Linked DNA regions of Homo sapiens: region 1 is linked to region 2. Evidence: fine-mapped expression QTL. A gene starts in region 2. The other region holds a variant in brackets. All regions are shown on one strand. Distances are between the middles of the regions. Region 1 overlaps SLC60A1-AS1 (SLC60A1 antisense RNA 1). Region 2 holds the start of SLC45A3 (solute carrier family 45 member 3).

Region 1 (4,226 bases), 110 kb before region 2:
AGGCAGGCTAGCACTAAGTAGCTCAACCGGATATTTGGTAAAGGAGGCTCTTTGTACACACACCCGCCTCTGCTGTATTTGCATTCATGTGCCTTAGGATGGCTGGGCCATCCAGGTATAGTCCTTGGCACCAAACTATCTGCCATCCGCCCCATGCCAACCTCAGACAGAGCCTTCCAATCCACCGCCACACTCTGGCCAGCAAAACAACCACACAGGGAGTGACAAGACAAAATCTGGAGATAGGGGAGGGGTGGCTTCATGACCCAGAATGGCCAGACTAACTGCAGGATGTGCTTAATGACCTTGAGCTGGAGACTTCACTCTACTGCTCCTGCCTGGCCTCTGCAGAATCTGGAAGCAGAGACCAGAAGGCCCTGGGGACAGAGGGCAGCCCCAGGTCACTAAGAGGATCCTGCTAAGCATGAAATCAAGCCCAAGTCCCAGTGACTCCCCACTAGGCTGGTGAGAATCAGGCCTCTTCTCTTTATATCTCATTTAAATATTTAAGGTTTTCAGTTCTAACAGAAACAGTAACAAAAACAAAATACACAACATGGGTTTATACACTAAGGAATTTCTGCAGCTGTAATGCATGTAAAAGGATAGTGGTAAGGGTATCTAACTCTTATTTCATTGTTCGTTTACTTTCTTCTGTGTGTTTCCATGACATAGATTACCTACAGATGGTCCAAGATCTGCAGGTGATTTATTGCTTCTCAACTTCCAGGTATAAAGCATAGGAGTTCAGCTGAGTGCAGTGGCTCACGCCTGTAATCCCAGCACTGTAGGAGGCTGAGATGGGCAGATCACCATGGGCCAACATGGTGAAACCCTGTCTGTACTAAAAATACAAAAATTAGCCAGGTGTGGTGGCGTGCACCTGTAATCCCAGCTACTTGGAAGGCTGAGGCAAGAGAATCACTTTAAACTGGGAGGCAGAGGTTGCAGTGAGCTGAGATTGCGCCATTGCACTCCAGCCTGGGTGACAGAGCTACATTCCATCTCAAATAATAATAATAATAATAATAATAATAATAATAATAATAATAAATGAATAAATAAAAGGCCGGGTGTGGTGGCTCACGCCTGTAATCCCAGCACTTTGGGAGGTCGAGGTGGGCAGATCATGAGGTCAGGAGATCGAGACCATCCTGGCTAACATAGTGAAACCCCGTCTCTACTAAAACTACAAAAAAAATTAGCCGAGCGTGGTGGTGGGTGCCTGTAGTCCCAGCTACTCGGCAGGCTGAGGCAAGAGAATGACGTGAACCCGGGAGGCGGAGCTTGCAGTGAGCCAAGATGATGCCACTGCACTCCAGCCTGGGCAAGAGAGCAAGACTCCGTCTCAAAAAAAAAAAAAAAACACAAGAGTTCAGTGTAGTATAAACACCTCTCACCAAGGAGTCAGAAATCCAGGCACCCAGTGATGAACCAATCCTGTGGTCCTTGCCTTGGAAGGGCGGCACTAAACAGAATCAGCACTAGGATAGTTTGGGAGCCCCAAGGAGGGAGCCTAGGAAGGTCAGAAAAAGGCTTCTGGAGAGCCAACCCTTGAGGCAATTAATAGATTTCAGGCTCCAAGAGCTTGAGAACCCTTTACTCCCACAGATCCTTTATTCCAATTAATGTAACCTTTCCATATTTGGGAGTCTCAGATCACTTTCCTTGGCTTGTGACGGTGGGGGATAATTCCCTTCTAATTTATAAGGGGGGAAATCAGAGAGTAGTTAAAGAAGGATCCAAGGTTTTGCCCTTCAAATTTAAGAATAACCACAAGGTGCCCAACTAAGAACAGACATGTGAATACACAGCACAAAGGAAAGACTGGATAGCGTCTGCCCTTGGGGAACTTGTAAGTGGGAGATAAGACATGTAAATGTAAAGCCAAAAGTAATTGTATAATTTTTGTGCAAACAATTCACCTCACCAGCTATTTGTCCAGGACTTGCTATCTGCAAGGCATTCTTTTATGTGAGGCACATGAGAAGGGGTGGAGTTAGAACACAGGTAAATATACTCCCAGCCCTTAGGAACTCATGATTTAACTGGCTCCCGTAAGGGGCTGGAGGAACAGTCCGTGGAATGTAATACCTGGCCTTGTGAAGATAGGGTAGCAGTACAGGAGTGGATGAGAGTCTTGCTGGAAATAAGAATTTAATAGAATTAATTCATCTGGGAAAGATGCCTAGAGGAGGTGGACAGTGTGTGATGCTGGAAAACAGAAGGGACAGAGAAAGGGATGAAGAAAGCAAAAATAAGCAAAACGTTTTCACATATAGACTTGGCTTTCAGACCCCACTCAAAAGTCACCTCTTCCATGAAGCCTTCCCAGGCAGAATTAGACACTTAGCTCTCCAGGCCCTCAAACCACCCCATTACAGAAGGTACCTCACTGCTGCACAGTTGGCCCCCTGTCTCTGTGGGTTCTGCATTTGTAAATTCAACCAACTGCAAATCGAAAATATTTGGGAAAAAAA[T/C]TCATCTGTACTGAACATGTACAGACTTTTTTCTTGTCGTTATTCCCTAAACAATACAGTATAACAACTATTTACATAGCATTTACAGTGTATTAGGTATTATAAGTAATCCAGAGATGATTTAAAGTATACAGGCCTATGGATGTAGGTTATATGCAAATACTATGCCATTTTATATCAGGGACTTGAGCACCTTCAGATATTGGTATCTATCGTTTCTCAGCCTTTTGGCAAGACCAAGTGTAGTATCTGTTCTTATCAGATATTGGTATCTGCAGGCACTCCTGGAACCAATCCCCCCACGGGATATGGGATATGGAGAGACAACTGTAACTTGTTTCCATATCTGCTTATCTCAACCAGAGGACCTTGTACAGTACCAGAACCCAATAGGTCTTTGACTATGAAGAGGCTGAGTACTGTATTCACGGTGGAATGCCTCCCTTTATTTTTACTTACTTTTTATTTTTACTTTTTACCATTTTAATCAAGTATAACTTACACACAAAAATGCACAAATCTTAAATCTACAGACCAATAAGTTTTTACATATATTTACACCTGTGTAACTACCACCTAGATCAAGCTTCAGAATGCTTCCAGCATCCCAGGCACTGGGGGCTACCTCATTGTGGCAGGGTCATTTGTTACTGTGGCTAGAGGAGCTGAGCCAGCAAGGTGCTGTAGTTGGGGAACGCCATTTAGGGAAATTATGGAAGGATTTCAGGTGTTTGGGCTAGAGAAGCAAAATCATTAGGGCAAGGTCATTTTGGGTGTGAAGGACTTACATGACAGAGCAATTAGATTTGTTCTGTGTGGGGCCGTGGGGAGCAGTTACAGGGCGAAGCATTTCAATTTTGCCTAAGACCATTTCTACAACCAGAGCTCATCCACACTGCAAGCAGAGCCCCTAGGAATATGCAAGGTCCCCAGCACTAGAGGTGTCAGTCAAGAACAGGACTGGCAAGCATTCAAAGGCAGTTATGGGGAGGGGATAGGGGACTCAATTGGAGGCTATTCCTTCCAATTCTGAGCTTCTATGGTTCCTGGAGTTCTGTGATAGTGGCAGAGAAGACTCAGTCAAAAACTTGTGGTTATGATTTGTTTGGTGTTTTTTCTTTTTTTTTCCCCCAGAGGGTAGCTTTTCAGTTTATTACAATTACTGTGCAGGCCCCCCATCATCACTATCGAATAAGTACTTGTCATTACCCACAGAGTGATGAGCCAGAGGGACCCTGGGGCTCCCCCTTCTCTGGGGCTCACTGTCCAAGAAGGGATAGGGCAGATGCAGGGGTGCGGCTATGAGATGGGACCAGTACCTGCAAGAGAAATTGGTTGCCCCACCTCATGCCAAGTTGTCTTGGGGACACCCGCCCACATACCTCCTCAGTCTTTTCAGCCCTGGTCCCCCTGGTGGGCCAGTGGAAATGATGTCATGGCTCCTGTCATTACCAGAAGACCTGGGCAGAGGGGACACCGCAGGGCCTTACTGTTCTGCCTCCAGGGGCCAGATCCTGGCTCCCTTAGGAGCGGGAACACACAGAACCCACCAGCCAGCCCGAGGCCACCTAATGAAGGGACAGCCTAGGTCAGCTGCAGGCTCCTCGAAGGACACCCAGTCTAGAGAATAATCAACCCCTACTCACTGCCAGGGATTTATCCATGGAAGAAAGAATTTTCCCCAGAACTCTTTTTAAATTTTTTTTTCTAGGAGATTATTTCAGAATTCCTCCCGGGGTTCCTCCA
Region 2 (4,510 bases):
GTAACTTGCCAAGCTGGTGGAGCTCACCTAGTGAAGCAGCCAATATAGAAACTTTCTTTCTGGCCGGGTGCGGTGGCTCACACCTGTAATCCCAGCACTTTGGGAGGCTGAGGCGGGTGGATCACCTGAGGTCAGGAGTTCAAGACAAGCCTGGCCAACATGGTAAAACCCTGTATCTACTAAAAATACAAAAATTAGCCAGGCATGGTGGTGGGTGCCTGTAATCCCAGCTACTTGGGAGGCTGAGGGAGGAGAATCACTTGAACCCAGGAGGCGGAGGCTGCAGTGAGCTGAGATCGTGACATTGCACTCCAGCCTGGGCAACAAGAGTGAAACTTCGTCTAAAAAAAGAAACTATCTTTCTGACAGTCTGGGTTTTTATCCATGTTGACTTATCAGGCTGTGACGTCCAGATGATAGTACTTAAAGTCTTCAAGTTAACTTTACTTTGAATCTTCAGACCAGCCCTGCCCAGGCTGAGAGCTCCAGTCTGGGTAAGGGGAGAGCTGGAGAGAGGCCTCCACTATCCCTCCACCACCCAGTGGCCTGGAATGGGCTCAGGAGACCACCAGGGATCACTGTCTACTCCTCCTCCTCCTTCAACGTTATTCAGGGAGCCAGGAGGGATGGGGAAGTTCACCACACACTCCATGAATACATAGGAAAACTCCCCCTAACACACACCCACTAAATTGGGGCCTGTCTGTCCACAGCTGTACATTCATCCACAGCTGTATTTTTATCTTCAAACTCATTCTGCTGACTCAAGCTGCATTTTCTGAGCACTTTCAGAACAACAGAGTCCTGGCTCCACGACAGGCCTGGTGGGAGGAGATAAGGGAGGAATGAGGGAATGGGACTGATCCAACAGAATGGCCTGCGACCTCAAATTGCGTCCCACTTATCCCCTACAATATGCTGCTCTATGGGTTTCCTCAGGCTTCCCGTCTAGCCTGGGCCTCCTGGGCCCTCCCACTCCCACCCCAATAGGCCAGCCTGTTTCCCAGGCCTCGGGCAGGTGAGTCTACACCAAGGCGGTCTCTGCTCTGAAAGGAGATCTGCTAAGTGCCTCAGGAAAGGTAGTCCGAAGCCCCTAGGACCTCAACCCCACCCCTGAGCAAAGGTTCCAGGACCCCAGCAAGGGTCACTGCGGGCCCTGGTCAACTGGCAATGCCCGGCTGCAGACTCCAGGGCAGCAAGACAGCAGCTGGGCTATTCTTAGTCCCTGCTCCACCGGGACCGGGTCTGTGTAACAGCTGAAGGGCGAGTCCTCACCAGGTACCCACCATGCCAAACCCCTCCCTACCCCCAACTCTGGCCCCTTGGAAAAAGAGGAAGCATAGGGAACACGCCCTGGAGTGGGGAAAAGCTGAGCAGGTCAAGAGTGTCTGTCAGGAAGATGGAGGCTGATTCAGAGGTCAAGGGCAAGAGCAACTCACAGGACTGCAGTGCCTGGGGGGAGCGGAAGACTACAGGAAGGCCTGACCCGCACTAGGGAGAAAGCATGCAGGTCCCTGGGGCTTTTCTAGCAAGCCTGCCTAGGCCCAGAGCTCTGAGAAGCTGCACGGGATGCCTAGGTACCACCACATCACACCTGTTTGCCGTTTGCAGAACTCTGTCCTTCCCCACCTGAGACCTGGGAGGCGAGGAGAAAACAGCGGCCTTTCTCTCCCCACAGAGGGGGAAACTGAGGCTGAAAAGGGGACACAGTAACACACACACACACACACACACACACACACACACACACACGGTCCAGTCCCAACTCTGTACCCAGAGCTCGCCCCAGTTCTAAGTCCAAGAGGGCTCAGTCCCCTTTCCCTGTCTTAATAACTCACTCTTCCTCAAGAAAGCCGGCCTGGGCCTGAGCACCCCGCGGCGCCGCGGCCGTCGGCTCCCGTCCCGGCTCCCCCAAGTCCCGGACTGTGCGCGCCGCAGTGACTCATCCTGCCCCTTTCCGGTGAAGCCCAGACAAGAGAAGAAAATAAACGCAACTTTCCAAAGAAAAGTCTGACACGGGAGGCTGCAACAGGAGCCAGCGGCCGGTCCGCCAGCCGTCGGCCCGGCCCGGTCCGGCCCGGCCCGGGGCTCCGGGGAGGGGCCGCTCCCCGCCCACACCGCCGCCCCGCCTGGGACAGCGCGGGCACCTCCTGCCTGCCCGCCCTCCGCGGAAGAAAGCACAGCTCAGCGGGGACCCGTGCAGGCGCCGGGCACTCGGCACCCGCCCCGGCAGAGCGTGTGGGACGCGCCCTCCTCTGGGATTCGCGCGGGGCTCGGCGCGCAGCGCCCCGGACGGCCACGGCGCAGCCCCATCCCGCGGGGCGCAAAACACGCGACAGCGCGGAGCTCGGCCGTGCACTGCTGCTCCCTTTCCCGCGCCGGGACCCTCACCCCTGGGAGAGGAGGGGGCGCGCTCCTACCTGGCCGAGGCGCGCGGCTGTCACCCGGAGCCAGCGCGTGCAGGCTGGTTCCGCCCCCCCTTCCTTGCCCCCCACGCGCGCCAGCCGGCGGCTTTTAAATCTCCAGGTTACTCCGCGGGGGGAGAGAGCATGCGCGCTGGGACTGCCAGGAGGGGGGCGGGGCGAGGCGGGACGGAGGTGGGGGGTGCTGCGAGGGGGGATAGAGGGGTGGGGCTGGTACCCAGGGGAAGAAAGCGGGAGGTCTCGAAGCTGGCTTTGTAGCCGCGCCGCGACGGGCAGCCCCCGCGTGGCTCCCAGACTGCCCTATCATTACCTAGGGCAGGGCACCGCCCCCTCTGTCGCTCGCCACCAAACATTTAGGTGAAAGCTACCCGGCTTCGCGGGGCACCTCCCCTCCCCTACTCGGAGCCAGTCTGCTGCGACCATTACCCAGGCGTGCCATTCTGGCCACCCGATCTCCAGGCAGAGCTGCTCCCTACCTGTCCAGGACCATCCCTTCAAAGGAGATGTCACATTCTCTCCGAATTACCCTTCTGCTCTTTGCTATTCTCCGACGCAGACAGAGCTAACTCAATCCCTCTTTCTGCGCTGAAAACCAAATTCCAATTTTTTTTCTTCTTAAGAGTGTGTACGGGGAAGAATGGATGATAAATTGCCAATGAAATGTTCTCTTTGTCAGCTGTTGAGCAAGGTCCGAACAGATACCTGTTCCAGAATGTCTTTGATGGAGTCCCAGGCTGGCCCTGGGGTTGGGGGTTGGGGGGCAGTTTTGTCTTTTTTTCCTCCATGGAGTTTTATTGGGTGGAGAGAAATCCAATTTAGTTGGATTGTTGACTTGAATACTACAAAGTCCCAGGAAGATGCCTTCGAAGGGGAAGACCTGGTTGGCCTTAGCCAACCAGGCACTGGGGCACTGGGTTCCAATGCTGGCCCTGTGTCAACAGCCGTATAACGTGGGCCAAGTCCCTTCCATGTTCTGGGCCTCTGTAAGAGGGGGTGAGCCAAATGATTTCTAAGGGCACCTTCCAGCTGAGAGGTAGAAGGAGGCAGAGAAGAAAGGGAGATAGAGAAGGGAGAGGAAATAGTGGCGCCCTGGTGGTAGTGGGGAACAGAGAGCAGGTGCCAGAGAGAGTTGAGAAGAGAAAAATCAAGAATCTACCTTCTGAGTCACTAAACAAGTTTAACTTGAAAACTGTCTCAGCGTTGCCTCCCTGGAGCAGACACACCTCTACCTGGGGACCCTCCTGGAGATGGCTTTCCAAAGTCTTTGGCATACCCTCTCGTGGCAAGCAGAGAGACTAGGGTGGAGTCCAGGGTCTCTGAGCTGGTGTCCCCTCTCCTCCAGGAAAGAGGTCAGGAGTCAGGGGAAATTTCAGGTCAGCTGGAAAATTACAGAGCCAGGAGAGAGTGGACGGTGGTATTTTGCAGGCTTGGGAAAGAACACTGGGAACATGAGAGAGTTGTCGCACCACAGACAAGTAAGAGCCCCCCTCTTCCTCCTGCCTCCCACCACTTCTTTCCAGGGGCCCTTGTGCTTTATGCCTTATGACAGGGGGATGAGGAAGGAGAGCTCAGGGGAGTGAGCACACAGCCTGGATCCCATGGTGATCCTGGGCCCTACCCAATCACCCCTTCCCAACTAAACCAGGTGGATGCACTGGCCAGGCCCCACCCAATACAGGGTACAGTAGGGCTCTCTGCTCTGAAAATCCCCCTCTTTCTGCTGATGTAGCCTCATGTTATAATAATAATAGTTGGCCAGGCGCAGTGGCTCACGCCTGTAATCCCAGCACTTTGGGAGGCCGAGGCGGGCGGATCACGAGGTCAGGAGATCAAGACCATCCTGGCTAACACGATGAACCCCTGCCTCTACTAAAAACACAAAAAAGTAGCCAGGCGTGGTGGCAGGCACCTGTGGTCCCAGCTACTCCGGAGGCTGAGACAGGAGAATGGCGCGAACCCGGGAGGCGGAGCTTGCAGTGAGCCGAGATGGTGCCACTGCACTCCAGCCTGGGCGACAGAACGAGACTCCGTCTCAAAATAATAATAATAATAATAATAATAGTTAACCATTACTAATTGTGCCAGGC

What was found. PIP is the estimated chance that this variant, and not a neighbour inherited with it, causes the effect.
Region 1: its variant is the best candidate, but not a certain one, in a credible set for the expression of SLC45A3 in tibial artery (GTEx, PIP 0.88).

The regions. Positions count from the first base shown.
Region 1 is chr1:205,564,025-205,568,250 of GRCh38, forward strand. The region is part of intron 1 of SLC60A1-AS1 (SLC60A1 antisense RNA 1); the gene reads right to left. It also overlaps the pseudogene RNU2-19P. Among named protein-coding and RNA genes, the nearest start is that of SLC60A1, 2.9 kb to the right of the region's middle. The variant T/C (reference allele first, on the strand shown) is at 2,481.
Region 2 is chr1:205,677,974-205,682,483 of GRCh38, forward strand. SLC45A3 (solute carrier family 45 member 3) reads right to left here and starts at 2,536. Exons shown (of 5, transcript NM_033102.3): 1 at 2,421-2,536. LOC105371701 (a long non-coding RNA gene) reads left to right here and starts at 2,397. Exons shown (of 4, transcript XR_007066825.1): 1 at 2,397-2,526. RefSeq lists an enhancer at 322-491, a cis regulatory region at 407 and a silencer at 2,081-2,300.